Linked DNA regions of Homo sapiens. The protein of the gene in region 3 purifies or fractionates together with the protein of the main gene of each other region. This does not show direct contact. Each region holds a gene or a part of one and is shown on either strand. Other genes may lie near its edges.

Region 1 (4,356 bases), on a different chromosome or scaffold from region 3:
CTTATAACTGGAAGTCTTGGTATTGAGCTAGATTGGAGGCATTCCCCAGCTATAGCATAGTGTGTGCTTTATTGCTAACCTAGGCGATGGGAAGAAAGAGAACACAGCTATCTTTCCAAGCTGTGTGCAGCATGGAGCACCAGCTGCCCTTGAGACAGAAGAAAGCTGTTGTTTTCATCAGGTAGGCTGTGTGTTTCTCTGTTAAGTAGGCTGAGGGGCATCTGGTCTGCAGGAGCTGGCATTTAATTTGAAGATGTTGAGGCCTTAAAAGATTGAACTTGTGGGTCTGATAGCCTAATTAGAACAAGCTATGTGTGGGGGCTGCCGTACTCAAATCTGTTTTTAATGGCTCAGTTCAGGGCTGAGGGGGAGCAATGTCAAAATTAAAATTAGAGCTCTAGATTTAATTGGCAGAAGTTTAAGACTTTCACTTTTGGCAGTGCTCAAGCTAAATGACCTTAAGGATAGAGATCTTGGGGTCATGGGGGAGCATCACCCTAACCCCTAGGCTTACTATACCGCATCTCTTTAGGGTCTTTACAGTCACTCCTCAACTTTTTGGACTCAGGACCCCTTTATACTCTTAAAACTTATTTAGGACTTCAAAGACATTTTGTTTATGTGAGTTATATCCTTTGATATTTACCAGATTCGAAATTAAAACTCAGTGAGACATTTAAAAATATTTATTGATTTATTTTAAAGTAGTAAACAATAATACTTTTTATGAATAACAGTAGTTTTTTGGGTTTTTTTGTTTGTTTGTTTGTTTTGAGACGGAGTCTCACTGTCGGTGCAGTAGCACCATCTTGGCTCACTGCAACCTCTGCCTTCCAGGTTCAAGCAATTCTCCTGCTTCAGCCTCCTGAATAGCTGGGACTACAGGCGCCTGCCACCATACCCAGCTAATTTTTCATTTTTAGTGGAGGCAGAGTTTCACCATGTTGGCCAGGCTGGTCTCAAACTGCTGACCTCAGGTGATCGGCCTGCCTCGGCCTGGGGTTACAGGCATGAGCCACAGCACTCGGCCGAATAATAATAGTTTTTAAAACAAAACATTTTAGTAAGAATGGACTGGGTGTGGTGGCTCACTCCTGTAATCCCAGAACTTTGGAAGGTCGAGGCAGGTGGATCACTTGAGCTCAGGAGTTCGAAACCAGCCTGGCTAACATGGTGAAACTTTGTCTTAAAAAATAAATGAATAGCCGGGCGTGGTGGCTCACGCCTGTAGTCCCAGCACTTTGGGAGGCCAAGGCAGGTGGATCACTTGAGGTCAGGAGTTCGAGACCAGCCTGGCCAATATGGCCAAACCCCATCTCTACTAAAAAAAACAAAAATTAGCTAGACGTGGTGGCGAGCGCCTGTAGTCCCACCTACTCGGGAGGCTGAGGCAAGAGAATCGCTTGAACCCAGGAGGCGGAGGTTGCAGCGAGCCAGGATCGTGCCATTGCACTTCATCCTGGGTGAGAGAGTAAGACTCTGTCTCAAAATAAGTAAATTAAGTAAGAATGACATTCTTTGTTTTTTAGTACAATGTTTTAATGTCTGCTCTAACAGAATACAGCTGTGTTCTCATATGTTTTTGCATTCAGTCTGTTGTGATAACCACATGTCCTATAACCTCTGGAAAACTCCACTCTATGCTCCTGAGAGAACAGAGGGACTGGCCCCTGGACCACGCCCTGAAAACTATTGATAGATGTGGTACTGTCAACCATGAAGAGTCAGACAGACCTCAGCACTTACAGATGATAGTTTTGTCACCTTGAACAAATGACTACATCTCTCTGAGTCTGTTTCCTCCTCTGTTGAGAGAGAAGTGTGCTGTAACTCATAGGACAGTGTAGGGATTAATAGAATACTTGTTCTCCTTGATAGGGACATAAAATAGTAGGGTATTTGTTAGTGTCTGGCACTTGGTAGGTGTGTAATAAGCATTATTCCTCAGGGTACTTTTTAAAAAATTGCTTAAAATACCCAAGAGAGACCCATATTATTTTGATTGGGTTTTGTGTGTGTGTTGTGAGTTTATTGTCCAGTTCTCTTCCTGTGCCTGTTCTGTGTGTCTATTGTAATATATAAAACGATTTTATGGTCCTTATTTTCATATTTCTATCTCTAGGAGACATTCAACTCCTTGAAAATGAACAATCCGGCCAGGCGCGGTGGCTCACGCCTGTAAATCCCAGCACTTTGGGAGGCCGAGGCGGGCAGATCACCTGAGGTCAGGAGTTCAAGACCAGCCTGACCAACATGGAGAAACCCCCTCTCTACTAAAAATGCAAAATTAGCCAGCATGGTGGTGCATGCCTGTAATCCCAGCTACTCGGGAGGCTGAGGCAGGAGAATCGCTTGAACCCAGGAGGTGGAGGTTGCGGTGAGCCGAGATCACGCCATTGCACTCCAGCCTGGGCAACAAGAGCGAAACTCCATCTCAAAAAAAAAAAAGAAAGAAAATGAACAATTCTCTTCAAATCCCCAGCTCTTAGCAGAGTATATGTACATTGTAGGCATTCAGTTAGGTTTGTGGAAAGAATGGCATCTGAAACCTCAACCGAAAATTGAACATTCCCCCTCCCTCCTATACCTTCAGTTTTGTTTTCTTGAGTTTAGTTAATCTCAAGTTCATTGGTTATAGTATTGATTGAGCTCCGTAAGGGCAATTTTGAGGAGAATTAGAGCCACAGAACTTAAGGCACCTTCAGGTAGCCATTAGCCACCCTTCTCTTCTCTCCCCTCCCACTGCCATCTTTAACTGGGAAGATGGCAGCAATATGAAAACGTAAGTAGTTTATTTAACAGACACTTAACAGTTGCTAATTTGTTAGCAGCTAATTTGTTGCTAATGTGTTGCAGCACACCTGAAGGGATATAGCTTTTCTGGTGCAGAATCACAGAGTGCCTTGTAATGCCTCTTGTATTGCCATTTATGTTTTCATGATTTTTATTAGTCTCTCTATTGGATATGTTCTTTATCTTCCAGAAGCTTGTAGTCTAAGTGAGAGAAAGGTACATGGGATATATCCCATAGACCATTTTACTGGATGGGGTGAGGAGTGATGCTGAGTGTGTCAGCAGCCAGCTTTAGGGTTCCACAATGGAATCTTGTTGTGATGATGTGTGCTGTTTTTTAAGTCCTACTCAAGGCCCATCAAGCTCCATGTTACGGTTCTTGAAGATCCCTACTGTCGTTTCCAGGCTTTGGATGAGTCTGAAAGCAGGGAAGTAGAAGATAAAGTTGGGGTTGGTTGGTACAGAATTACAGAATGCTAAGGAAAATTAGGCTCAGGATTCAAATTCAAACTCAGGTTAACCCATCTTGAAACAATAGGTTCTTTCCCCTATGTCATGTAATATTCTCAACTATCCTGTAAGGTAGGTAGCGCTATTACCATTTTCCAGGTTAAGAAAGTGATATTCAGGCATGTCCAATAATTTGCTTAAGTTTATGTTTAGCCCGTAGGGTATGAAACCAGGATTTGATTTCTACTCTTGAGCCCAGCAGTCTTTCCATTTAACCATGTTGCATTTATTTTGTAGGACATGGAAGCCTTTCAAGATTTTTTGCCTGCAAGGGGAGTAAATGATAAAACTAGGCCCTTTTTGGACCCAAATGCTCCCAACCAGTACTCACACAAATTGGCTCAAGTTCATGAAGTATTTGTGTGTTTAATCTATTGAAAAGAGATTTTGCTTTTGACTTTGCTAATAAGTATGAATAGTGTATGTAAACATATGAAAGCACCTTTTATAAAGTTGGCACTTATTGTTTCCAAGCCTCCTAGAAGCAGATCACATAATCTCACTCTACCACCATATCCCCACTTAATTGTCCCTACATTAGTTTCTTTCCTCATTTGCCCATTCCTGTCTTCAAATGGTAAGTGAGGTAAAACTTTGGGGAAGAGAGATGATACATATACAAGTCTGGTATAATTGCCTTCTTTTTCTTTTTTTCTTTTCTTTTTTTTTCTTTTTTTTCGAGGCAGATTTTGCTCTTGTTGCCCAGGCTGGAGTGCAGTGGTGCAATCTCAGCTCACTGCAACCTCCACCTCCCGGGGTCAAACCATTCTCCTGCCTAAGCCTCCAGAGTAACTGGGATTACAGGCACCTGCCACCATACCCGGATAATTTTTGTATTTTTAGTAGAGACGGGGTTTCACCATGTTGGCCAAGCTGGTCTCGAACTCCTGACCTCAGGTGATCCACCTGCCTTGGCCTCCCTAAGTGCTGGGGTTATAGGAGTGAGCTACCACGCCTGGCCTAATGGCTTTTTTTTTTAAGACAGAGTCTCACTCTCTCGCCAGGCTGGAATGCAGTGGCGCAATCTGCAACCTCCACCTTCCGGATTCAAGA
Region 2 (4,356 bases), on a different chromosome or scaffold from region 3:
AGCTTACTGCAGCCTCCACCTCCCGGACACAAGTGATCCTCTTACCTCAGCATCCTGAGTAGCATGGATTACAGGTGCTCACCACCCTGCCCAGCTAATTTTTAATTTTTTTTTTCTTTTGAGACAGACTTTTGCTCTTTTTGCCCAGGCTGGAGTGCATTTGTGAGATCTCGGCTCACTGCAGCCTCTGCCTCCCGGGTTCAAGGGATTCTCCTGCCTCTGCCTCCCAAGAAGCTGGGATTACAGGCATGCACCACCATGCCCGGCTAATTTTGTATTTTTAGTAGCGACGGGGTTTCGCCATGTTGGTCAGGCTGGTCTTGAACTCTTGACCTCAGGTGATCCTCCTGCCTCAGCCTCCCGAAGTGCTGGGATTACAGGTGTGAGCCACCACACCCAGCCTACTAATTTTTAATTTTTTTGTAGGGACAGGGGTCTCACTAGGTTGCTGGTCCTTAACTCCTGGGCTGAAGCGATCCTCCCACCTCGGCCTCCCAAAGTGCTGGGATTACGGGTGTGGGCCGCTGCACCTGACCCTGCTCCCGCTTTCCTTACATTGTTTTGTAGCAGCTGACAATAGTTCATCAGATGATGCACCAGAACTTCACCCAGTGCTCCTCTGGATTTTCCTTATCATAGTACCAAGAGTGGCACAGCAAATACCCTGTGTCTTTGCCATTTTGCATACATGTAAATACGCCTGTAGAATAAATCCTAAAGGATAACTACTGGGTCAGAGCATAAGTCCATTTAAAATTTTGAAAGGGGGGCCAGGTGCGGTGGCCCGTGCCTGTAATCCCAGCACTTTGGGACGCCGAGGTGGGCAGATTGCTTGAGGTCAGGAGTTCGAGACCAGCCTGGCCAACACGGTGAAACCTCGTCTCTACTAAAAATAGAAAAAATAGCTGGACGTGGTGGCAGGCACCTGTAATGCCAGCTACACAGGAAGCTAAGGCAGGAGAACTGATTTAACCCGGAAGCTGGAGGTTGCAGTGAGCCAAGATCGCACCACCACACTCTAGCCTGGGTGACAGCGAGACTCCATTTCAAAAAAAATTAAATAAATAAAAAAATTTGAAAGGGGGCCGGGAGTGGTGGCCAATATCTGTAATCCCAGCACTTTGCGTGGCTGCGGTGGGAGGATCACTTGAGGCCAGGAGTTTGAGACCAGCCTGGGCAACATAGTGAGACCCCTGTCTCTACAAAAAAATTAAAAAATTAGCCGAGTGTGGTGGTGCATGCCTGTAGTCCCAGCTACATGGGAGGCTGGGGCAGGAGGATGGCTTGAACCCAGAAAGTTTGAGGCTGCAGTGAGCTATGATCATGCCACTGCTCTCCAGCCTGGGCAACAGAGTGAGACTCTATCTTTTAAAATTAAAATTAAAACTAAATTGTAAATTTTTGGCCAGGCGCGGTGGCTCATGCCTGTAATCCCAGCACTTTGGGAGGTTGAGGCAAGCAGATCACGAGGCCAGGAGATTGAGACCATCCTGGCTAACACGGTGAAACCCCATCTCTACTAAAAATACAAAAAAAAAAATTAGCCGGGCGTGGTGGCAGGCACCTGTAGTCGCGGCTACTCGGGAGGCTGAGGCAGGAGAATGGCGTGAACCCAGGAGGCGGAACTTGCAGTGAGCCGAGATCGCGCCACTGCACTCCACCCTGGGCGACAGAGCGAGATTCCGTCTCAAAAAAAATTTTTTTTTTTGATAGGCATTGCCAAGTTGCTGTCCGTAAAGATCATTGCCCTAAGTCACACTCGCATCACAGGGTGCCACGGGGCCTGCTCCCTCGTGCTCTGGTTGGCACACGTGCAGCACAGTTTTGGCCTTTACAGGATCCATATGTAACAAAAGATATCTGACTGTACTACCTTTTAGTTTACTTTTTACTTTTTATTTTATTTTTTTCTTTTTCTTTTTTGAGATGAAGTTTCACTCCTGTCACCTAGGCTGGAGTGCAATGGTGTGATTTCACCTCACCGCAATCTCTGTCTCCTGGGTTCAAGTGATTCTCCTGCCTCAGCCTCCCGAGTAGCTGGGATTACAGGCGCCTGCCACCATGCCGGGCTAAGTTTTGTATTTTTAGTAGAGACAGGATTTCACCATGTTGGCCAGGCTGGTCTCAAACTACTGACCTCAAGTGAATCCGCCCGCCTTGGCCTCCCAAAGTGCTGGGCTTACAGGCGTGAGCCTCCGGCGTGACTGTACGATTTTTAAAAATAAACCTTTTATGTTAGTATAGTTTTAAATTTATAGAAAAATTGGAAAGTGCAGGGTGTTCCCCTGTACCGCACCCAGTCTCTGCTATTTGAATATCTTACATTATGATGGGACGTGTACAATTAACAAGTCATTATTGGTAAATCACTGACTAAAGTCCACACTTGATTTGTATTTTTGCAGTTTTTCTTTTCTGTCCCAGGATCCCACATGATTTTTGGGCTGTGGGTCTCAGGCTTGTTTGGGCTGTGAGTTTCTCAGACTCTCCTTGTTTTTGATGACCTTCGAGTTTTGGGGAGAGCTGGTCAGGGATTTTACAGAATGGCCCCCTGTTGGCCCTTGCCTGATATTTTTCTCGTGATCAGACTGGGTGGTGGATGGGTTCTAGGAGGAAGGCCACAGAGGTAAAGTACTCTTCTCACCCCATCCTGTCTGGGGTCCACACTGTCCATGTGACCTCTCACTGGTGATGCTGCTGGCCTTGGTCCCCTGGCCAAGGTGGAGGGTCAGGCTTCTCCACTGTGAGGTCGCCCATCCCCTGTGCTCTCTGGAAGGAAGTCGCTTTGTTCAGCCCACATGGAAGGGGTGGGGAGTTTTGCTCCCCCTCCTTTAGAGAAGAGCATCTATAGAAGTTATTTGGAATTCTTCTACACAGGAGATTTGTCTGTTCACCCTCATTTATAATTTTTTTTTTTTTTTGAGACAGTGTCTCACGCTGTCGCCCAGGCTGCAGTGCAGTGGCATAATCTTGGCTCACTGCAATCTCCGCCTCCCGGGTTCAAGCGATTTTCCTATCTCAGCCTCCTGAGTAGCTAGAACTACAGGCGTGTGCCACCACACCTGACTAATTTTTGTATTTCAGTAGAGATGGGGTTTCACCATGTTGGCCAGGCTGGTCTCGAACTCCTGACCTCAAGTGATCCTCCTGCCTTGGCTTCCCAAAGTGCTGGGATTACAGGCATGAGCCACTGCACCTGGCCCCACTTATTAATTTTTTCAATCATTTATTATAATGGACTCGTGGATATTTATTTTACACTTCAAGTTATAATTCAATGCTAGTTTGCTTATTTTGTTGCTCTCATTGTCACAGCTTTGGCCACTGGGAACTTTCAGGTGGCTCCTGGGTCCCTGTGTCATTGCCCATCACTTTGTCTTCTGAGCACGTCCTTATTTCTGGCCCTATAAACTGCTCCAGCCTCATCTTGTCTATTTCCTCCTCCAGTCCTAGAATCAGCCATTTCTTCAAGAAGCCCCGGTTCTTTTTCTTGGAGAGTGGTCTCAGAGACCAAGGTCTGGGAGCTGGGTGTGCTTGTCCCTACTGGGCTGTTTCTGGTCTTCTCAGCCAACAGAGCAAGGAAGTATGTAGTGTACGCCAGTTGGTGTGTAATATACACACTGTCTATAGATAGTAACCTACCTAGTAACCATTGGTGTTGTGCGTCCTACTGATGTCTCTGCCGCTAGTGGCACCTCTCGCCCCCCCGACGCTTGCTGATTGTAACCTCCCCTCCTGCAGTGAGGATGCGGCCCCATCGTCTGCTGTCCCTGGTTTAGCTCCTGTGTGTGTGTAAGGTGTGTAAGGTGGTGTCACAGTGGATAACCCAAACCCCATGGGAAGAACACCACCAATGCTGTGCTATGCTCTGGGACAGCCCCTCTGCACGGGCCCCACTCCTGCCCACGGCTCCTCGGGACAGCCCCTCTGCACAGGCCCCACTCCTGCCCAGGGCTATTAGGAAGAGCCCCTCTGCCTTTAGGCTGACAGGCCCCACTCCTGCCCGGGGCTACTCGGAACAGTCCCTCTGCACGGGCCCCACTCCTGTCCAGGGCTGCTTGGACAGCACCTCGCCCTCCACCTCTGATTTTATTTCTAACTTAACATCTGTGAGTGAGGCTGAACATCTTTTCTTTTCTTTTCTTTTTTTTTTTTTTTGAGAGGGAATCTTGCTCTGTCGCCCAGGCTGGAGTGCAGTAGCGCAATCTCGGCTCACTGCAACCTCCGCCTCCCAGTTCAAGTGATTCTCCTGCCTCAGCCTCCTGAGTAGCTGGGATTACAGGTGCGTGCCACCATGCCCGGCTAATTTATATATATATATCTTTTTAGTAGAGACAAGGTTTCACCATGGTGGCC
Region 3 (3,360 bases):
AGCTGTGGGGACTGAGTGATGCAGCACGGGGTGCTGGCAGTGGCTCCTGGCCTTGTTACTGGGGGTGGTGCCCAGGCATCCTCATGTCCTCCTCATAATGCCATCCCCAAGCCCATGTCCATCCTACCTGCCAGGGCCCCTTGAGGACACGGCCTCTGAGGCGGAGGCTTTGCCAGTGATCCCAGACTCCTGAAGGGTGCTGAGCTCGGAGCTGGGGCTTCATAGGCCCATTTTACAGATGGGGGACTGCAGGCTGCCCCTTAGTGTCAGCGGGACCCTCCCCCCCACCGGCATGCCACGCCCCTTGCCATCTAGCTTACCTTCCCTTTTTGTGTCCCCTCCCCGACTCCCCTAGGAAAACGTACGAAAAAGGGCATGGCGACCGCCAAGCAGAGGCTTGGGAAAATTTTGAAAATTCATCGGAACGGGAAACTACTCCTTTAAGATTTGGAAAGCCAGGATCCTTCTGCTCCGCTCAGGACCCCCGGAGCCCCGCGAAAACATCTGCCTCCCAGGAGGGTGCCGAGCTGCCTCACCAGGGAGGGCCTTGCCTCTTCCCGGCTGCCATCTCCCCAACAAGCGTCTGTCCCTTCAGCCGGCAGAGCGAGCCCAGCGTGGCCCCTCAATTTGAAAATGGACGTCTTTTCTCAAGTTGCTAAGAGTGATCTGTCCCAGAAAAGCGGCCCTGCAAGTTTGAGGACCGCTTATTCCACTTTAAGGACAGCCTTCAGGCCCCCTGAGCGTGGGTGTGATTGCAGGGCCTCTGCAGCTCTGCTGAGAGCATGAGTCCTTCAAGGAAGACAGAGTGAGCCAATGCTCACCAGCCCCAGAGTCAGAGCTGGCCACAGGCTGGCAGCCTCCAGGGGCTTAAAAAAAAAGGCAAAGAACACAGAAAGAGGAGGAGCAAGTGGGATGTTTATGTCCCCCCTTCTCTTCCTGAGTGATTCTCAGCCAAGTCCAGACAGTGCTCGGCGGGTGAGGAAGGGTCTGCCCCGAGCTTTCTGGTTGGCAGGTGGCAGCAGGATGGTGGGTGTTCAGCCTGAATGCCCAGGAGCATTTCTGGGGGGCAGCTAAGACTGGCAGCTGGGTTGGTGTGTTAGCGGGCAGGGGAGCCATTGTGGGGTCCCCAGGAAAGGGCAAGGGCTCAGCCACATCTTGGGGTCTGGGAGGCCCAGGCTAAGCCATGTGGCAGGGACCGTCTTGCCCTGCTGGCCACACTCTGGAGAAGCACTTCTCAGCCAAGGCACCCCTGCCCTGGGACTGGCAGGGCAGGGGCAGGGGCAGGGACAGTGGCCAGGCGGCCCGAGGACTTACGGTCGGCACTTCTCTGTTCTCCCGTGTCAGCGTGTGGTGTCGCCTGCATGGGTCGTACCTGGATGGTGTGTCCACCATCGACACGGAGGGGCTGGATTTGTTTCTCAGGCAATCCTGTATTTTAATTTTAGATGTATTTCCTGAAGCATATTTTTCATAGAATGTAGCGTGTAAATAGCTTTTTAAATAACTTCTTTTTTATAAGAGTAAAAGTATCTTTAGGAATTTCTTTCTATAGAGTTCTTCATTAACATTTATACGAGTTTTTTGCTGAGTCAGATGGACAGTTGGGTTCTGATGCTTTTTCCTTCTCCTTTCCTTTTATTATTATTATTTTTTTCTTTTAAGAACTAAGGTATTGCCTGAAAAACAAGTGATGTCTGTGCAGCCTTACACTCTGTCTTTACAGAAGCAAATAGTACACAAAAGATCTATTTCAGACACATTTTGAAGATGAATCTTCAACTTTAATACCAGCTCTTTGTTTTCCTTGTATGATGAGGGGATTGGGGGATACAGTTATTTTACTAGCACCTTGTGAAGTGTTTCCGTGTTTTGTGATGCTGTAATTTATTAATGTTTGTAGCTTTTTATATTTGTACATTTCTTATGAGCTTTGTTTATATACCCATTACCTGGATGTTTTTGTCCACTGGGAGAGGCAGCTTGGTGGAGGCCTTATCCACTCCCACTTGTCCTGTTTGGAGGGACGCAGTCCCTAGGGCCCGAGACTGGGTGGGAGAGGGGGAGTCTCACGGGGCCCCAGGCTTATTCAGAACTGGTGTTTTTAAAGTTTCCTTTACCCTGCCCTTGTTGAACATTTATATAATCTAACCTGGACATCAAGCTGTTCTCTCTCTCTCTTTTTTTTAATTTTATTATTATTATTTTGGCAACATGTACATTTCTAACAAAGTTTATCGTGGCTATTAAAGTGTTTTATTTCCCAATTCATATTACTCTTGTATCGAGTCCATGAGGTCTAAGGCAACTTAGATCAAAGTTTTAAAAAAGTAAAAATATTTCAGGTTTTGTACAGAACCATGTCTGTGTCATTTCTGCCTCGACTGTAGTTGTTCACCCTGGCAGTGAGGGTGGTGGGGAGGCTCCAGCCACCTGCGTTCCTCATGGAAAGCTTCGGGTTGCTCAGCCAAATCACACACAGCACCCCAAGCTGGCTGGCAGGAGTGGACAGAAGAGACCCTCGGGGGCTGCAGGGGTGGCAGCAGCGTTTGTCAGTCCCAGCCCTGAGGATGTCCTTGGGAAGCCTCTAGAACCTTCTTTTGGACTCAAGGGTATGGCGTTTGGCTGAGTCCAGTAGGCACACACATGTGCACCCCAGCACGGATGCACACCCAGAAGCATTCAGTCCCTTGCACGGTTCTAGCCTAAGTCTGATGTGATTACAGCTAACTACCAGGAACAGCCCTTACCTGACAGAGGCACTCAAATGGTGCAAGCCCAGGGAGGGTGCTGAGCGCAGGGGTGGGGTCGCTGCTCGTGATGTGTGGCAGGCAGGGCTGCTGGGACACAGGTGAGGCCTGGGTCAGTCTGTTGGTGGGGGTGCATGCGTGGGGGTGCTGGTGACAATGTTGAGGACCACGGATAAACAGGCCATTTGGCGTTTATTGAAGAAACATGAATAACCTCGGGCCATTTGGGCAGGCAGATGCTGAGAATCAAGGGGTGTGATGACGGCTGGACTGGCCCAGGCCCCCACACATGGGGTCTTGCCCTGGGATGGGAGCTGGGAGTGGGATAAGCTGGAGACAAGTTTGGCCTGGGTCACCCAAGGTTGCTCAGCTTGCAGGTTGCTGAGCAGGGTCGGCCCTGGCTGCCAACACCCTGAGGAAGCAGGATCTCCAGTAGACCCTGAGCAGAGGGCTCTGCCGTGCTGGGTGTCTGACCCACCACTGCAAGATTCTAGGGGTTTTGTCAACCCGCAGACCTGTGGTCATTCACTCCATGCAGTTTGTCATGTGGCACAGGAAACTAACCCAAGGCTGCCCTTGGGCAAGTCCTTTCTCGCTCTGAGCTTTGTTTCCT
Region 4 (4,356 bases), on a different chromosome or scaffold from region 3:
TGCTTCTTTTCTGGTACGAAACTCTGCTTTCTGAAGAATCTCAATCAAAACAGGAAAAATATTTGCATCTATAACAGCCTGAGAGGGGGAAAAATATATAATCAGTACAAATACTGTTTCTAAAATATTACCAGTAAAAAAAATCTTGAAACTCAATGGCTTCAAAATGTCAAGGTTTTTGGAACCTTGACATTAAAATAAATTTTTAATTTCTATTCTGTCAGCAAACTTTTCAAATATTTTTCTTTTTACATAGGAAATTAGCTTTTTAAAGACTGGAGAATAGCAAAATATAAATTTTAGAGATGATAAAGCACAAGCCATGTGACTGATCAAAATGGATAAGTAATCACTGACACAAGAAGCTTGATAGAACCCTAATAAATCATTAAAAGCTTTGAGAGGAAGATTATTGCATAACTTATTTAAAACTAATGCAAAAAAATATCTTTCTAAAGACAAACCATTATGTGTCAGGCACTGTGCTAGACACACACACACACACACACACTTGATGTTCTTCACTAGAATACTACAAGTAAATGTTATTATTTTAGAGGAGGAAAGCCCATGTTCTTTAAAATACTTTTTCGGTATCTTTTTAAAAAGGAATCTTTTTTAGTAAAAGTGTTAACTTTTGTCCAAACTGGCTTCTTAGACCTTGCTGTTCTACTCTCAGATCTGAAGGGTAGTTACCTGAATCTGAGCTCTATTTCCAGCAGTGATGTTAGAAACAGTCCAGCAGGCTTCTTTTCTAATTGACTCCTTTGGGCTACTCAATAAATGTAAGAGACAGGGTAATGCAGAACAATTCAAAATTACCTAAAACAAGTTAGAAATGGAAACAAAAAGTTTTATAGTAAATAACCTATATGAAAATCTACTAATGAATTATTTAGATGTACAAAACCCATTCTAGAAAGTGAAATTAAGAAAGGAGAAATTCCTCCCAAAGTAAAACTTGCTGTCTTCTACACGTCTGCTATTGATAAACCTAGTCTCCTGCCACTATAAGGAACTGCCCTGTTCTCAACCCAATAAAATGAAAATCAGAGGTGTATCCTTCATATTTACAAATGTTCTCAGAGTTCAACTGATAAAACTGAAAAAAGATTTGGTGACCGAGGTCAGGATCCAACCTCTAGTTTTGCCAAATGAATTGGTGAAAAAAATACATATATCATACAGTCTGAGAAAATCCAATTCTACAACCATTAAAAACAGCATGTAGAATCAATTGGCTTCATAAAAATTTTTACTATCTTACTCTTCTTCTGTAAACAAGTATATTCTGCATTGTCCCTTTACATTCTTTATTCCATTGCAAGATTAATTATGTTCCTATATTCAAAATACTCCAATGATTTACATTAAATTCATCTGGTGAAGAAGTGTGGAGCAGTGCACTGGAAATCCAACTGAAAATTACAGTATATGTCTAGAATGGCATTTTCATTTCAAGAGCTATATTAAATGAATAACTGTCAATTACTAAAGAGCAACTATTTAATAACTATGATTAGTATCCAAATAGGCCTTTAAAAGGATAAAACTGAAAGAAAATATGTAGGTTAGAATAAAAAATACACTGTAAGGCGGTAAACAAAGGAGAATCTAACGTGTTAAATAATTTAAGTTTCTATCTTCAAGAAAGATTGTGCTGGACATACTGGCTCATGCCTGTAAGTCTAACGCTTTGAGAGGCCAAAGCAGGAGGATCACTTGAGCTCAGGAATTTGAGACCAACTTGGGCAACATAGCAAGACCCTGTCCCTAAAAAATAAATAAATAAATAAATTAGCCAGGTGTGGTGGTGCACACCTGCAGTCCCAACTACTTGGAAGGCTGAGGCGGGAGGACTGCTTGAGCCAGGAGGACTGCTTAAGCCAGGGAGGTAAAGGCTGCAGTGAGCCATGATCACACCACTGCACCCCAGCCTAGGAGAAAGAGCAATATCCTGTCTCTAACTAAACTAACTTACTAAATAAATAAAAAGATTGTAACCCAAATCTGGCTGGAGTCAATCTTGACAGCACATCTTCTTTGACATCTCACCATCCTCCAAGACACAGATACAGACACACACACAATTATGGTGATGCTAAAATCTTGATTAATATGTAATCAAGTTGTATGAAACATAAATTTTTTAAAGTCCTTTATGTTAACAATTTATGATACTCAAGTTTGAACTCACCTGTGTTTGAATATCATCACCAGTCACAATATTACCAACTGCCCTTAATGCAGGTGATACAACTTTATAATCATTGTGCCTAAAAATAATAAAAACATGAACCTAAATACTAGTAAGAATTTAAAATTTACACAGAAGTTACAAAAATACTACAAACTCCTGCGGGGTGTTCAGCCAAAGATCCCATTGAAGTTTTACTAATTATTCTGATAATCTTTATAACAAAGGATCTAATCCAGGATCGTTCATTACAGCCAGTTTTCATGTCTCTCCAGAATGATTTCTCAGTCTTCCCTTAATTTTCATGATTTTGCCATTTTTGAAGATCATAAGCCCATTATTTGGGTTTATCCAATGTTTTTCATGATTAAGACCCAGGTTATATACTTTGGCTGGGGGATATCGTAAGTGCTATAACCTTTTCATTATATCCCAATCTGTTTTTTCCCATTATATTGGTACTGAATTCTGGTCACTAATTATGATGATGTCTGCCAGACTTTTCCATTTTACCATTATTGTTTTCCCATTTATAATTAATATAATTAATATTTTGCAACAAAATACTTTGAGATAATGCAAAATCCCACTCCTTAACCTACTTTACCACTAGATTTTAGCATCTCTTGATGCTTATTATCTGAAGTATTGGTAATTATTAGTATTATTACCAGTGATGTATTTCTAATACTATCATTCTAACTACATGCTTTAGTGTGGACTTATGGGTTTCATATTTTATTCAATAAAATATACATTAATGCAATTTATTTCAAAGCACAAACTGTCCCAGGTTTGGATAGTGAGAACCCCTTCAAATAGGCTTCTGTGTTCTTTTGACATCTGTCCATTACTTGAGCACTCATTACTTCCTGCATTCATCTTACATTTTTCTCAGTCCCAGTCCTGAAACCAGTCATTTCTCCAACAATCTTGGTTCCTTTCAATGGAGAGTAGTGTTTAGAAACTTCGATTTGAACTTCAGTTTCCTCAGCTTATTAATGTAGAAGTGTTACTGTTCCCATGCCCTTCAAGAGGATGCACACACACATACCTACACACATGTATATATTTATTTCCATACCTAGCTATGTTAAGAGCCATGAGTTCACACTGATATTTCTAGTTCTAATCTAAAATAATTAAATTATTCAGGCTTTCTCCTCTTCTATATTTTTATCTCTATTCTCCGATAACAGGAAATAGCTTCTATTTTCCTAACCTCCCTATATCAGCCAATCTTTTACCTCAGCCAGACTGGTACCCCATGATGTGCTGGCTCCAAGTCCTGCTCCAGCCTGCTTATCTGCTCACCCCAGTGGGTGTCATTATCAAGTTGGGGCCCTGATCCCCCATGCTGAACCTGCATGCCCACCCTCCACTGATGCTATCCTCATGCTGGGACCCCCAACTCCTTATCAGACCTATCTTTGTGCCATCTACCTTGTTTGGGCCTACAATGGCTTCTCGACAAAAGAAGAAAGGAAGGAAGATAATACATTTTTTAAAGAGGGTAAGTAGATGAAGTTATGAAGTTACAACATCTTTTTAAAACAAGTTTTCTTCAACGTTTTTAACTTCTTTGTATAGAAAAGCTGTTCTTTTTAAGGAAAATAGCTATAACAGCCCAGCAAAGAGAAACATGTTATCTTTAATAGAGGTGAAATACTAAATGATTTTCACTACATGGACTTTTACTCAAATTAATTATTATAATGAATAATAAACTAGATTATTTGTTCTGTGAGAGGAGAAACTGTGTTCTATACTTCATTAATGTCTCACACAACACCTTAGCAGATAACAGGCATTCCATAAATACTTATTAAGTTTATCTAATTCATAAAGAGATCACATTAAACTAAGGAAATTCATTTACAAAATAATTAGTTCCAACTATAGGACATAAGTTCCAAATTTTAGGGTCAACTTTCTAGGATTATGGCTATTCTGTTAAGTGTTGGGTCAGTAGCTTTTTAATTTTCCCTGAAGACAGTGACTCTTGAGATATTTACAAAGCTATTACTTGAATTGCTAATTTTAATCTCAATCATACAATTATTAAGCATAAATTATTTATAGTTACATCAAAAGTTCCACCAATCTTCGACAGACTCCAGAATCAATGACTGCTTGAATTTTATCATTGGGTCCATCGG
Region 5 (4,356 bases), on a different chromosome or scaffold from region 3:
TCAGCATGGATTCAATGATCTGTGTCTAGGATTTCTTTCAAAACAATTCAAGAATGGAGGGAAAGTAGCTAAAAGAAGACTAGCTATGTGTATTCAGTTGTTGAAATATATGCAACAGGTATATTATTCTATATTTGTAGAATTTGAAATTTTTCATAATTTAAAAAAATAGAAAAAACTGCCCAAGTAATACTGAAACTCTTCTTTGATATAGTATATTCCAATATCATATAACCTCACACCTGGAAAATTGTTCCTAATATAATAAACCAGAATTTCCCAGTTTTAATTTGTACCTTTAATGAACTCTGAAAATTTGACAGTTATGCTAATGTTCTACATTAAAATTGTTTCTCTCAATTTGTAGTTGTTAAAGGCAATTATTCTAATAGTTTTTTGGGTTTGACTGACATAGACAGATACAGAGCTTGGTGCTCTGCAGAAGATCCATCTTAAATTATTCTTTCTTGTAGGAAAAATTGTTTCTTTGAAAAACTGTTATTTTAAGGTTCAGAATTACAGTGAATTCAATATTAATAAAAAGTACTGTTTTAAAAAAAAATCTTTATTTTTTTTCTGAATAGGAAGACAGACAGTTGAACAATCAAAAAAAGCCAGCACTGAAAAAATTAACTTTACTGCCTGCTGTAGTTATGCACCTTAAGAAGTAAGTATTTTGTTTTCTTTAAAATGTCTTTTTCCTTTTCATGGAATGATAATTCAAATGATGTACTGGTGTTCTAGGAATATTAAATAATGATAGACTTCTATCGGTTCACAGAAAGATAATGAATAAAATTTCCTAAATTATATTTCTTCATAAATTTTTATTAAGCCTTGATGCCTGGTGCAAACAGAACAAATAAAAAATTGATACTAACGAAAGAAAAACTTGGAAACTACTAATTTTGTGTTTTTTTGTTTTGTTTTTGTTTTTTTGGTAAAGACAGGATCTTGCTATGTTGCCCAGGCTTGTCTTGAACTCCTGGGCTTAAGTAATCCTCCCACCTCATCCTCTCAAAGTGCTGGAATTACAGACATGAGCCACTGCACCTGGCCACTAATTTTGTTCTTTATAGACAGTTTTTGGTCTGGTAAAATTGCATCTGTTTTCTCCGTGTGATGGAAAATAGTAAATCTTGGAAGATCCTACCTGAAGGCTGCATTGTACAAGGCTTATATGACTCTAATGTGTCACAATTATTGATCCTTCTGAAGTAATGATGCCCTTTTTGAGTAGATCCTTGTTTCTAACTTTTTTCATTGATTTGCTTTTTTTTTTTTTTTTTTTTTAATTAGAGACAGGATCTCGCTGTGTTGCCCAGGCTGGTCTCGAACTCCTGGGCTCAGCCGATCTTCCCGTCTCAACACCCCAAAGGCAAAGTACTGGAATGGGATTACAGGTGTGAGCCACCACACCGGGCCCTGATTTGCTTATATTTCTGAGCAACCTTGCTTTCTCTTTGAACTAAGCCACAGCCTACTTTTGATGACTGAGGAAATGTATTGGTGCATCAGTGAGCTGCCACCAGCATGGCCTAGAGCATCTGTAACTAGAAAATTTCTCCCTCTATTCTAACAGGGGAAACTATCTGTGGCAGGTTTTATGTATATAATGTTATCTTTTCTATTAACATAACTGATTCCAGTACATAAAATGGAATTTAAGTATTATTTTATTGAGTTTTTTTTTTTTTTTTTTGTCCTGCCAGTGGAGTGCTAGTCTCATTGGTGTCCTGCAGAGAAGAGCAAATCTGGGTTCACCACCATGTAAAACTGTTCAAGAATCACTATTTTGATAGATTGAACGTTTTTTTTTTTTAGTTGAAAAGATTGGAGTTAATTGTTCTTACTGTCTGTACCATTCATATCAGCATTAATTTATCTTGTGTAACTTGAGTTTGTTTTGTTTTCAGCAAATCATCTTTGTCAAGTATATGCATTTCTGGAAAATAAGAACTAAATGTCATACTGCTTTCGAAACCAGAATGGTGTTCAGTAAATGTCAAATTTATATGAGTAACGCTTTAAAAGCAGTTTTTAGAAACATCACTAAATATGTAAGAAAAGTCGGAAGATACAGTAGAACCAAGGTTCACAGAATTTTTAAAAATTATTGTTACTGCAGGCAGGACCTTAAAGAAACATTCATTGACAGTGGTGTGATGTCTGCCATCAAAGAATGGCTCTCACCTCTACCAGATAGGAGTTTGCCTGCACTCAAGATCCGGGAGGAGCTGCTGAAGATCCTGCAAGAGGTTAGAGGCAGATAATCTGACTGTTCTTTATTAATTATCTAATGTGGTCTGTATGGTCATAACCTGTGTAGTTTACAGTGTTTTTATATGTTATCTCTGCTACAGCCTGCCAGAAGAGGGGTTGGAAAAAAGGAACATATCTAATAAAATGAGCGTGAAAGGGAAGACCTTATAAAACTTCATGTAACTATCGCATTGAAGGGAAAAAATCTTAGAGTAGCTGTAATGTGTCTGAGAAGAGTAGTACAGTAGTGGGCAAGTTCCAGGGAGAAATGTGACGCAGAATGAACACCAAATTCAGAATCATATGAACTTGCATTTGAATCTTGAGCTGGGCCACCTTACGTAGTTGTGACACCTTGGGTAAGCTATTTAACTTCTGAAGGAATTCCCAAGGAAACCTCCTATGCCACGCACTGTGCCAGGTGCTTTATATATGTATTGATTCGTTTTTTCCTCACAGTAAACTGAGAAGGTAGGTGTATTATTTCCATTTTACAGATGAGGGAATTAAGATGCAGAGAAGTTAAACGACTCGTCAAGGTCACATAGCTAGAAGGTGGCTGTGCTTGGGTTCAGTCTTAGGTCTATTGGATTCTGAGGCCTGTGCTGGCTCCTGTATTAAACTGCTAACCTCTGAGTACGCTTGGTTCATACTTTCTCACATTGTTAGGTTTTACTTCAACTCAGCTGTAATACTGAGCTCTCAACCTCTTTTTGTTTTTTTTTTTTTTGAGACGGAGTTTTGCTTCTGGTGCCCAGGCTGGAGTGCAGTGGCACCACCTCGGCTCACTTCAACCTCCGCTTCCTAGGTTCAAGCGATTCTCCTGCCTCAGCCTCCCGAGTAGCTGGGATTACAGGCGCCTGCCTCCACACCTGGCTAATTTTTGTATTTTTAGTAGAGATGGGTTTCACCACATGTTGGCCAGGCTGGTCTTGAACTCTTGACCTCAGGTGATCCACCCGCCTCAGCCTCCCAAAGTGCTGGGATTACAGGCGTGAGCCACCATGCCTGGCCTGAACTCTGAACTTTTGATGTGGACACAAAGTATCTTTGTGTTCTATGTCTGTAGATCCTGAAAATGGAATTTTTTATTTGTTCTGTTGTGAATGTGCCAGGTCTCTAGAATAGACTAGCAAGACCCCCAGCTTCCGAGTGATTAATATGTGTGTATGTGTTTATGTTCCCCAGCTGCCTAGTGTGAGCCAGGAGACCCTGAAGCATAGTGGGATTGGACGAGCAGTGATGTATCTCTATAAACACCCCAAGGAGTCAAGGTCTAACAAGGACATGGCAGGGAAATTAATCAGTATGTAAATTTTCCTTTTTGTTTGTTGTGTTTATGTGTATAGATAAGAGAGAGATGCGTATATATAAAAGCTGTATTTTTACCAGTATTTGTTTTAAACGAGTCGGTAAAGTGGAATAGAAATTTTTGAATAACTTCTTACAGGTACTAGCATTTTCTCTTAGACTTTAAAAAAAAACCTCAATATAATTAAGTATGCTATTCAGTATTAAAAATAGCAAGTAAGAGGCTGGGTGTGGTGGCTTAACGCCTGTAATCCCAGCACTTTGGGAGGCTTAGGTGGGCGGATCACAAGGTCAGGAGATCGAGACCATCCTAGCTAACACGATGAAACCCCATCTCTACTAAAAATACAAAAAATTAGCCGGGCATGGTGGTATACACGAGTAGTCCCAGCTACTCGGGAGGCTGAGGCAGGAGAATCACTTGAACCCGGGAGGCGGAGGTTGCAGTGAGCCGAGATCGCGCCACTGCACTCCAGCCTGGGCAACAAGAGCGAGACTCCGTCTCAAAAAAAAAAAAATTGCAAGTAAAAAGTATGCATTTTCTAGTCATGGGTCGAGAGCATGGAGAAAGAGAGGGGTTAGATTGCAGGCCATGGAGTTGATATTACCTGGGTTCAGATCATGAATCCACCACCTACCTTACTGCATTTCCTTAGCTAGTGATTTGTGCTCTGTAAAGTTGAGATAATTATGTGTTTTCTTTTGGGTGACTTTAAAGATTAAATGAGAGGTTGTGTCTAAAGCACGGTGCTTAGCACATAGTAAGTACTCAAGAAACAGCCA
Region 6 (4,356 bases), on a different chromosome or scaffold from region 3:
TCACCCCAGGATTCTGGGGCTCCAGGCCCCTCGGATGCCGAACAGTCCTAGTTTGGTGTCAAAAGAACAAGGTAAACATTGTTGCACATCTTCTCGGTGCTACCTCAAAATCGCAGGGGGCGAGAAGGTGCCAAACCCCTCCTGAGAGGAGCCGCTTTGTCCTAGGAGCCACGAGGGCTGTCGGGAGCTTCTGCAGTGTGATGATTTAAAACATGCCCACGTGGCTGCACATGGTGGCTCAAGCCAGTAATCCCTGCACTTTGGGAAGCTGAGGTGGAGGAGTACCTGAGCCCAGGTGTGTAGGACCAGCCTGGGCAACATAGTGAGACCCCGTCTCTACAGAAAAGTTGAATAATTAGCGGGGCTTGGTAGCAGTTGCCTGGAATCCCAGCTACTCGGGAGGCTGAGGCAGGAGGATTGCCTGAGCCCAGGAATTGGAAATGGCAGTTAGCTAGGATCATGCCACTGTACTCTAGCCTGGACAAAAGCAAGACCCTATCTTTTTTAAAAAATTAAAAAAAAAAAAAGATTAAAACATGCCTACAAACTCTTTGACACTATCTTCCAAAGGCAGAGCCGCATCCATCTCTGAGGGTGGGATGGGCCTAATGAGTTGCTTCTAATGAGCAGGAAAAAGGTGGAAGGGACAGGGTTGCTTCTGCAACAAGGCCATGAAGCCTGAGGCTTCCTCTCTGCTCTCTCCCTCGGATCACTTGCTCTGGGAGAAATCAGGTGCCACATCCTGAGGACACCTGAGCACTCTTATGGAGAGGCCCACAAGGCAGGGAGCCCAGGCCTGCTGCCAACAGTCAGCACCAACACAGCAGGCATGCACATATGCCATGCAGAAGCGGGTCCACAGCCCGACGGGCGGCCTGTGTACCTCAAGGGAGACTTGAGGCCAGAGGCACCCCGTTGAGCCACTCCTGAACTCCTGTCCCACAGAAATCGTGTGAGATAATAAATGTTTACTGTTTTAAGGTGCTAAGTTTTGGAGTTACTTGTTACCCAGCCATAGCTAATCAACATAGGCAACCCTGGGCCCAGAGCACAGACCTGATTGTAAAGGGTCAAATGGGAAAAAACAAGGATGCGTGGCCTTGTATCTCCTCCTCTTCCTGGTCAGCCCAGAGCTTCCCAAGGAAAAACACAAACTTTAGTTCATGTTCCATTAACAAACAAACCCGAGACCAGGAAGTGTTTGTCCCTCCAGTTGCATCCACGAAGGCATTCACTTTTTCAGACAAACGTGTACTAAGCACCTTCCTGGTGCAGGGGCTCTGGGAGGCTTGTAAGCACCCTTTGAACCAACAAGACTGAGCCCCTTGTTTTTGGCATGGTTGGTTCAATCACCACTGACTTAGACCGAAAGTGAAAGGAGGCCCCCCCACCCACAGCCCACCCCTGCAATCAGCAGCGCCCACACAAACACGCCACCACTCCACACACGCCCGCTCTATTTTTTTTTTTTTTTTGAGACGGAGTCTCGCTCTGTTTCTCAGGCTGGAGTGCAGTGGCGCGATCTCGGCTCACTGCAAGCTCCGCCTCCTGGGTTCACACCATTCTCCTGCCTCAGCCTCCCGAGTAGCTGGGACTACAGGTGCCCGCCACCACGCCCAGCTAATTTTTTATATTTTTAGTAGAGACGGGGTTTCACCGTGTTGGCCAGGATGGTCTCGATCTCCTGATCTTGTGATCCGCCCGCCTCAGCCTCCCAAAGTGCTGGGATTACAGGCATGAGCCCCCACGCCCAGCCTCCACGCGCCCACTCTCACATGGGTCAACTCGTCTAACCCTTCCCGAAACCCTCCGAGGCACTTAGTGAGCGCCTGGTGTGCAAAAAGGATGACTTCAGTCGCCGTGGGGGCAAGCCTGCAGCCTCAGCTGGACTCCAGCTCTTCCCCCTGCTGTGTGACCCCTGGCAAATGACTTAACCTCTCTGTGTCTCAATGTCCTCATCCTCAGTAAAATGAAGATAAAAACAGAACTGTAAAATTGTAAGGAACTGAGTGGCACACGCCCACAAAGTACTAAGCACAGGCTCCCTTGTAGGCTGGTTCCAGCCTACGGAAGCAGCAGCAGATGGGAGAGGAGGGGAAGGAGGAGAGATGGGTCAGGGTAGGAACCTCCTACCCAGCCCTGACTGGTTCTGGAGGTGGCTACGCTCCCACAGGCTCCTCTTCCTCCCCCGGCACTGGGGCCTCGACAACTCCGACTCCCTAACCCGCCAGCCTCCTTGTATGGGGCCTGGATGAGCTCTTACCTCCAGCCAGGCACTACCGAGTGGGCCAGCTGGGTCCCTCGGGGCCCTGACCAAGACTGAAAGCACCTTTGTTATCAATAACAGTGACCATGATGGTAACTCGCAGGCCTGCAGAGGGAGGGAGGCACGCGATGTGTGAACACAGGGTGTTTCCATGCCTCGGTGAGATGAGGACAGGGGGCTGAGTGGGGCTCATGGCCAAGACCAACTGCACAGCCCCCTCCTTCCCAAGGGAGCAGCGTGGACCCCCTGAGGACGGATGCCAGCACCAGGCACCCTGGGATCTGGAGCCCCCACCGTGCAGCCACAGGCAGCTTGTGTTCACTCTCTGAGCCCCTCGTCTCTCAGAGGCTCCCAAAACTCTATGCCTCCCACGGTAACTGGCTCAGGGCCTGGCACCCGGCTGGGGTTTGATAACATTTGGTGTGTGCACAGAGAACATTCTGGAAGCTACCAAGCAGACAGGCCTGGTGGGTGGAGGAGGGCTGCACCTGGTAGTGCTCGGCGGGCGGCTCGGGTGTGCAAGAGCTGAGGTCCAGCATGTCGGTGGGGGCCCAGGGCAGCAGCATGCACTTCCGGATCAGGGGGTCCGTCTCTCCGTAGGCAAAGTCTCGGGTCACCTCCTCTGTGCCAAGACATGAGTGCCCATCAGAGGGGGTGACGGGACACTGGGCTGAGGCCCCTCCTCCAGGGCGGGCAGGTGCTGGACTTACCGCCAGTGTCCAGGTCCCTCAGGGGCCACAGCAGCGTGTAGGCCACCTGCTGCGGCATGTAGAAGAAGGGTGCCGTGGCGAAGCTGGGCACGTCCGCGTGCTGGATCCGCGAACCGAACTCGTCCATGATATACCACACCGGCATCTTCTCCTCAGCTGTCTGCAGACAGAGCACATATGGCACCTCTCGCTCACCCATCCACCCACCGGAACTCCCTTCCGGAACCCAGACATCGACCACCAGCCCACAGCCATTTCTCTGATCTTGGAGGCCCTCTCACATGTACCCCAGGCCCTTTAGCTAAGCTAGGGGCTCCGGGACAGCAGCCCTGCCTTTGCAGACCAGGACACAGGCCTGGGTAACACAGCGTGAACACTCGTGGTAAAAGGGCGTTTGGTAACAAGGCACTCAGCCCAGCACCCGTAGGGGTGTATATGGGTTTGAGGGTAATGGGGGGGTCGGGGGAGTCGTCTTTGAGCTCAGGGAAGGGTCCCTGGAGGAGATGACATCTAAGCTAAAATCATGAGAAACAAGCAGGTGTCTTTTCCCAAACTAAGAGTGGTGAGGGGCTGGAGCATGGGGTGAGTCCCCGGAGAGGCCAGCAGGGGTGGGTGAGGAATGGTTGAGGGCTTTTAAGAGAGTGACAGAATCAGGGGGGCCAGGAAAGAGGCGGCTGAGTCATCTGGGCCCCTTCAGTTTAGGAGTCTGAGAGGGCTGCGTCCTGTGAGCTCAGAGGCCAGCTGGGTCCGAGTCCCCAGGATAGCACTCTCCTTAGGAAGCCACAGGAGAAAGTGAGTTGCTTGCTCTGGCCGGCCCCTCACCCGGCCTGATGGCACAGGGCAGCGGAGGTCTGTGCCCATGCCTGTCCTCCCCCTCCCCGGGGCCCAGCTACCCACTCACCCCATGGGCCAGCTGGTAGGTCTGGTTGAACTTCCACATCTCCTCCAGCACCAGGGCCACAGCCTCTGTACTGGGCAGCTCACCGTGGAACTCAATGCCCATCAGGTTGGCCATGCGGTGCAGCAGCCCGGGCACCTGCTGCAGCTGCTGGCGCGCGTGCTCCACACGGCACGTCCAGGCGTGGTCGATGAGGAAGATGCTGCGGGCACAGGCCACAATGTGAGGCTGCCGGGTGGGCATGGGGCAAAGGGAAGTCGGGGGAGCAAGAGGCCCAGGGCTGTGTTGGGACCAGGGCCCAAGCTTCCTTAGATTTGGTCTACTGGGTGCCATAGTTATGCCTAGTTTTGGACTCCAGTGGGCCTGGGTCAGGTGCTGGCGCTGCTGCTCACTCCCTGTGTGATCCTGAGCAAGCACCTCCTCCTCTTCAAGCTTCTCAAACAGGGCAGCAGGGGTCTCTACCGCCTGTCACCTGGCTGTCA
Region 7 (4,356 bases), on a different chromosome or scaffold from region 3:
AAGGAAGCTTTCTCACTGTTGGTGCTATTGACATTTTGGACTGGATAATTCTTTATTCTGTTTTGTGTACTGTAGGGTGTTTAACAGCATCCATAGCCATTACTACTACATGCCACTAACACTCCTAACCCCAGTTGTGACAACCAGAGATGCTTCTAGAGGTTGCCAAATGTCCTCTGGAGAGCAAAATTGCTCAGGTTGAGAACTACTGACATAGAGGGAAGAAAAGGATAAAATTTCAGCTTACCGGTATGTTTTTAGGTTAGGAAGAGGGAAAACAAAACTTTATTAAGTAAATATATTAATAAATATTCAGATGGTCCCAAAGTGAAAGCAGCTGATGTAGGAATGTCTTGCATATGACTGCCTACTACAGTGATAAATTACTGAGACACGGGATTTAGTTTAGGTGAATGTGCGTTTTGAACATCACTAAGGCCAGTGCTGGAACAGTGGTTAGATTCCTGAATGTGCCCATCTTATAGTCCACTAGGTAGGTAAAAATACTGCACCTGAAAATAAAAATATAGTTCAGTGCCACAATACTTTATCCAGAAACACTTGGGCTAAATATATTTGAGATTCAGATTTTTTAGACTTTAGAAAGGTATTTGGGTATATTTGCAATATGTTGTATAATCTACCTAATAAAATATGGCCATCACCTTTAGTCACATTTATATTTTTGCTGGAAATTCTATGAATATTCACACTGAGACTATTAATAACCTCATGTCAGTTTAATCACGTGATCACATTTGATGTCAAATGAGGTTACTGCAAACTTAAAAGTTTCCAGTTTTTGGCACTGTTTGGGTTTACTAGTTGCAGGTAAGAGGTTTTGGGCCTGTGCTTGGAAACACATGTTATAAATGTACAGTTCTGTAGCTACATCATTTCTATGGTTACATGGGTCTTGCATTCTAAACAGCTAACTTAGAAAAGCAGTCCATTAGAGTAGACTTCCTGTCCTTCTCTTCAGTAGCATAGTCATGTAAGAGCTGATCTGGAATGAATAGATATCTTGGGAAGGAGAATTCAAGAAGGAAGTTATGGAGACAAAAATGGGGAATGCGGAAACATTGAAGAGCCAGAGAAAGAAGAAAAAGGAAAGAGATGCTAAGGGAAGCAAGGCAATCCTGCCTATTTATCCAGTCCCTAATACCTATAACCTTAATGCTTTCAAACCTTCTTACGAAATACCCTAGCTCCTTCTCTCTTTTTTTCATCTTTGAGTAAACTTTGTACTATATTTTCTTAGTGGTCCTTGTGATTTTCAAATGCCTTTTCTTCTTTTCACAAAAAGAAAGAAATCACTTTGAATCTACTTCTCAAATCCTTTCTTTTCATTTGTATGAGAATTTGTACCTGACTTATCCATGAAATTTTCTGTTCACCCTTTGACTTTATTTTATTTTATTTTATTTTTTTGAGATGGAGTCTTGCTCTGTCACCCAGGCTGGAGTGCAGTGGTACAATCTCGGCTCACTGCAAGCTCCACCTCCCGGGTTCACGCCATTCTCCTGCCTCAGCCTCCCAAGTAGCTAGGACTACAGGCGCCCACCACCACGCCCGGCTAATTTTTTGTATTTTCAGTAGAGATGGGGTTTCACTGTGTTAGCCAGGATTGTCTAGATCTCCTGACCTCGTGATCTGCCCGCCTTGGCCTCCCAAAGTGCTGGGATTACAGGCGTGAGCCACTGCACCTGGCGTTTTTTTGTTTTTTTTTTTTTTTGGAGACAAGGTCTTGCTCTGTCACCCAGGCTTTAGTGCAGTGGAATGATGACGGCTCGCTGCTCACTGCAGCCTCCATCTCCCAGGCCCAATCAATCCTCTCACCTCAGCCTCTTGAGTAGCTGGTACTACAGGCATATGCTACCACACCCAACTAATTTTTCTATTTTTTGTAGAGGACAGCATCTCATTATGTTGCTCAGGATGGTCTTGAACTACTGGGCTCAAGCAATCCTCCCTCATTGGCCTCCCAAAGTACTAAGATTACAGACATGAGCCACTGGGCCCAGCCGATTTTTAAAAAAATAATCTATCGTTAACTTTATTGATTCAGTAAGTTAGTTTTCGTGTGTGTGTGTGTGTGTGTGTGTGTGTGTGTGTGTGTGTGTGTATCTGTAGGTGTCTGATATTATAGTTTCTTAGTACCTATTTGAGAGGCCACCTGGTGTAAAGTGCAGAAAGCCTGGATTCTATTTCCAGTCTCTCATTGACTCATTCTCTTATTTGGGCTTTTTATATAAGTTTTAAAAAATAGATTCCAGACTTATTGTGTGATAGCTTTCAATTTTTTTCTGGTCAATTTTTTCTTTTTGATACTCTTTCTTTCAAAATTATGTCATTTGTGATGGATTTTGTTTTTCATCTTCTAAATAATTGAATTTTACCTGCTTTGATTATTTTTATTTTTTAGAGACAGAGTCTTCCTCTGTTGTCCAGGCTGGAGTACAGTGGCACAATCATAGCTCAGTATGGCCTCAAACGCCTAGGCTCAGGCTTTCCTCGCAAGTAGATAGGACCACAGGCATGCACCACCATGCCTGGCTAATTTAAGATTTTTTTTTTTTTAGAGATGGGGTCTTGCTATGTTGCCCAGCCTGGTCTCAAACTCCTGGGCTCAAGTGATCCTCCTGCCTAGGCCGCCCAAAGTATTGGGATTATAGGCCTGAACTAGTGTGCCTTGGCGCTGTTTTGATTATTTTTTGTAATTGCTCATCTTTTAGTGAAAACATTCTTGGAGTAAAAGCCCCATTTTGTGATTTTTAATATATCCTAAAGTTTTCTTTGAAATTCTAGTCAGGTTTCACATACCAAAAATTTCACATCATTATTTACTTTTTTTCCTCAACTTTAAAGGTTGTGTTTAAAGTCACGCTGAGGTCAGTGTGTTTTAGTCCTAAAGGCTCACTTTTCTAAGTCTTTGGCTTGTTTATAATGAAAACAAAATCCCATCTCGATTTTTCTCAGTCCAAGTTAGACAAAAATGGATTTTACAAAATGAACTTTGTTAAAAATCTGTAGAATGGGAAAATATGAAGTATATGAAAGTAGATTTTCCAAGTACAAGTTTCTTCTGTGACTGCTAAGGTCACTGCCTAACAGGTACCAAATAGAGTACCAAAGTACAGTTCTGGAGGTCAGAAGTCCAACAACAGAGGTCCCATGGACTTAAAATCAAGATATCGGCAGGGCTGCATTCCTTGAGGAGGCAGGAGCAAACATTTACTAAGTGTTGTTGTATACTTGTGCTAGGTGCTTTAAATGGATTATCATTTAATCCTAACAATGGTTTTTTAAAAAATTCATTATATAAATTTAATCAAGATTAGAAATTTACTCACACAAATGCCATTCAGAGGTAATTTAAATCAAAGAGTCAATACACATAATTTCTTTTCTTTTTAATTTTATTTTACTTTAAGTTCTGGGATACATGTGCTGAATGTGCAGGTTTGTTACATAGGTATACATGTGCCCTGGTGGTTTGCTGCACCTATCAACTCATCAGCTAGGTTTTAAGCCCTGCATGCATTAGATATTAGTCCTAATGCTCTTCCTTTCCTTTCCCCCTAATCCCTGACAGGCCCCTGTGTGTGATGTTCCCCCGCTATGTCCATGTGTTCTCATTTTTCAACTGCCAGTTATGAGTGAGAACATGTAGTGTTTGGTTTTCTGTTCCTGTGTTAGTTTGCTGAGGATGATGGTTTCCAGCTTCATCGATGTCCCCGCAAAGGACATGAACTTACTCTTTTTTTATGGCTGCACAATAAACATAATTTTATTTTTACTTCAGTTTTTCCTGGAGAATCAAAGAGAGGGACACCTCCTGTTTTTTATGAAACTAGTATAACTTCGCTACCTAACTCAGATAAAGAAGATATTAGAAATGAAAATTATGGGTTTATCTTACTTATGATCATAGATGTAATATGCTAAATAAAATAAAAAATTAGGTCACATTTAAACTGGGTTTTCCCAAGAATAAAGGATTATTGAAAATAAAAGAATCTCTTTTTTTTTTTTTTCTTTAAATGAGAAGGAGTCAGCATTCTCATATTTGGATGAGGGCCTTTGGTTTGGTGCTGATTCATCTCTGGCCTGGTATTTACCACAAGGGAAAGGATAGACCTTGACCTGAAAGTGGATGACTCCCATGGCCTTAGTGCACTTTTTGTTCACAGAAGTGAGCAACAAGGACCAATGGTTCTTTCTTATACATTAAATGCAGCAGGATGTATGACAGAGCATGCCTCCATTTGTGTACTAGTGTGGATATAGTTTATTTTTCAACTTTTGAGTTCAGAGGTACATGTGCAGGTTTGTTACATAGGTAAGCATGAGTCA

The links.
Region 1: the proteins of PHF2 (region 3) and SUPT6H purify together in Homo sapiens (affinity purification with mass spectrometry, with the first as the bait; one large-scale study listed by BioGRID). This does not show direct contact.
Region 2: the proteins of PHF2 (region 3) and CEP131 purify together in Homo sapiens (affinity purification with mass spectrometry, with the first as the bait; one large-scale study listed by BioGRID). This does not show direct contact.
Region 4: the proteins of PHF2 (region 3) and KPNA5 purify together in Homo sapiens (affinity purification with mass spectrometry, with the first as the bait; one large-scale study listed by BioGRID). This does not show direct contact.
Region 5: the proteins of PHF2 (region 3) and IWS1 purify together in Homo sapiens (affinity purification with mass spectrometry, with the first as the bait; one large-scale study listed by BioGRID). This does not show direct contact.
Region 6: the proteins of PHF2 (region 3) and TTLL12 purify together in Homo sapiens (affinity purification with mass spectrometry, with the first as the bait; one large-scale study listed by BioGRID). This does not show direct contact.
Region 7: the proteins of PHF2 (region 3) and YTHDC2 purify together in Homo sapiens (affinity purification with mass spectrometry, with the first as the bait; one large-scale study listed by BioGRID). This does not show direct contact.

What each region holds. Positions count from the first base shown.
Region 1 is NC_000017.11:28,668,450-28,672,805, forward strand, and holds part of SUPT6H (transcription elongation factor SPT6), read left to right. Parts: intron 1-83; exon of another isoform or gene 84-181; intron 182-199; exon of another isoform or gene 200-2,782; intron 2,783-4,307; exon of another isoform or gene 4,308-4,356.
Region 2 is NC_000017.11:81,212,124-81,216,479, reverse strand, and holds part of CEP131 (centrosomal protein of 131 kDa), read left to right. Parts: intron 1-4,356. UniProt on the Homo sapiens protein: Component of centriolar satellites contributing to the building of a complex and dynamic network required to regulate cilia/flagellum formation.
Region 3 is NC_000009.12:93,677,233-93,680,592, forward strand, and holds the end of PHF2 (lysine-specific demethylase PHF2), read left to right. Parts: intron 1-355; coding exon 356-444; 3' UTR 445-2,355; downstream 2,356-3,360. UniProt on the Homo sapiens protein: Lysine demethylase that demethylates both histones and non-histone proteins. Enzymatically inactive by itself, and becomes active following phosphorylation by PKA: forms a complex with ARID5B and mediates demethylation of methylated ARID5B.
Region 4 is NC_000006.12:116,722,217-116,726,572, reverse strand, and holds part of KPNA5 (importin subunit alpha-6), read right to left. Parts: coding exon 4,284-4,356; coding exon of another isoform or gene 4,280-4,283; exon of another isoform or gene 3,249-4,279; intron 2,277-3,248; coding exon 2,198-2,276; intron 823-2,197; coding exon 697-822; intron 79-696; coding exon 1-78. UniProt on the Homo sapiens protein: Functions in nuclear protein import as an adapter protein for nuclear receptor KPNB1. Binds specifically and directly to substrates containing either a simple or bipartite NLS motif.
Region 5 is NC_000002.12:127,491,183-127,495,538, reverse strand, and holds part of IWS1 (protein IWS1 homolog), read left to right. Parts: intron 1-584; coding exon 585-667; intron 668-2,128; coding exon 2,129-2,258; intron 2,259-3,450; coding exon 3,451-3,568; intron 3,569-4,356.
Region 6 is NC_000022.11:43,176,865-43,181,220, forward strand, and holds part of TTLL12 (tubulin--tyrosine ligase-like protein 12), read right to left. Parts: intron 4,077-4,356; coding exon 3,878-4,076; intron 3,137-3,877; coding exon 2,977-3,136; intron 2,889-2,976; coding exon 2,755-2,888; intron 1-2,754. UniProt on the Homo sapiens protein: Negatively regulates post-translational modifications of tubulin, including detyrosination of the C-terminus and polyglutamylation of glutamate residues. Also, indirectly promotes histone H4 trimethylation at 'Lys-20' (H4K20me3).
Region 7 is NC_000005.10:113,516,476-113,520,831, forward strand, and holds part of YTHDC2 (3'-5' RNA helicase YTHDC2), read left to right. Parts: intron 1-4,356. UniProt on the Homo sapiens protein: 3'-5' RNA helicase that plays a key role in the male and female germline by promoting transition from mitotic to meiotic divisions in stem cells.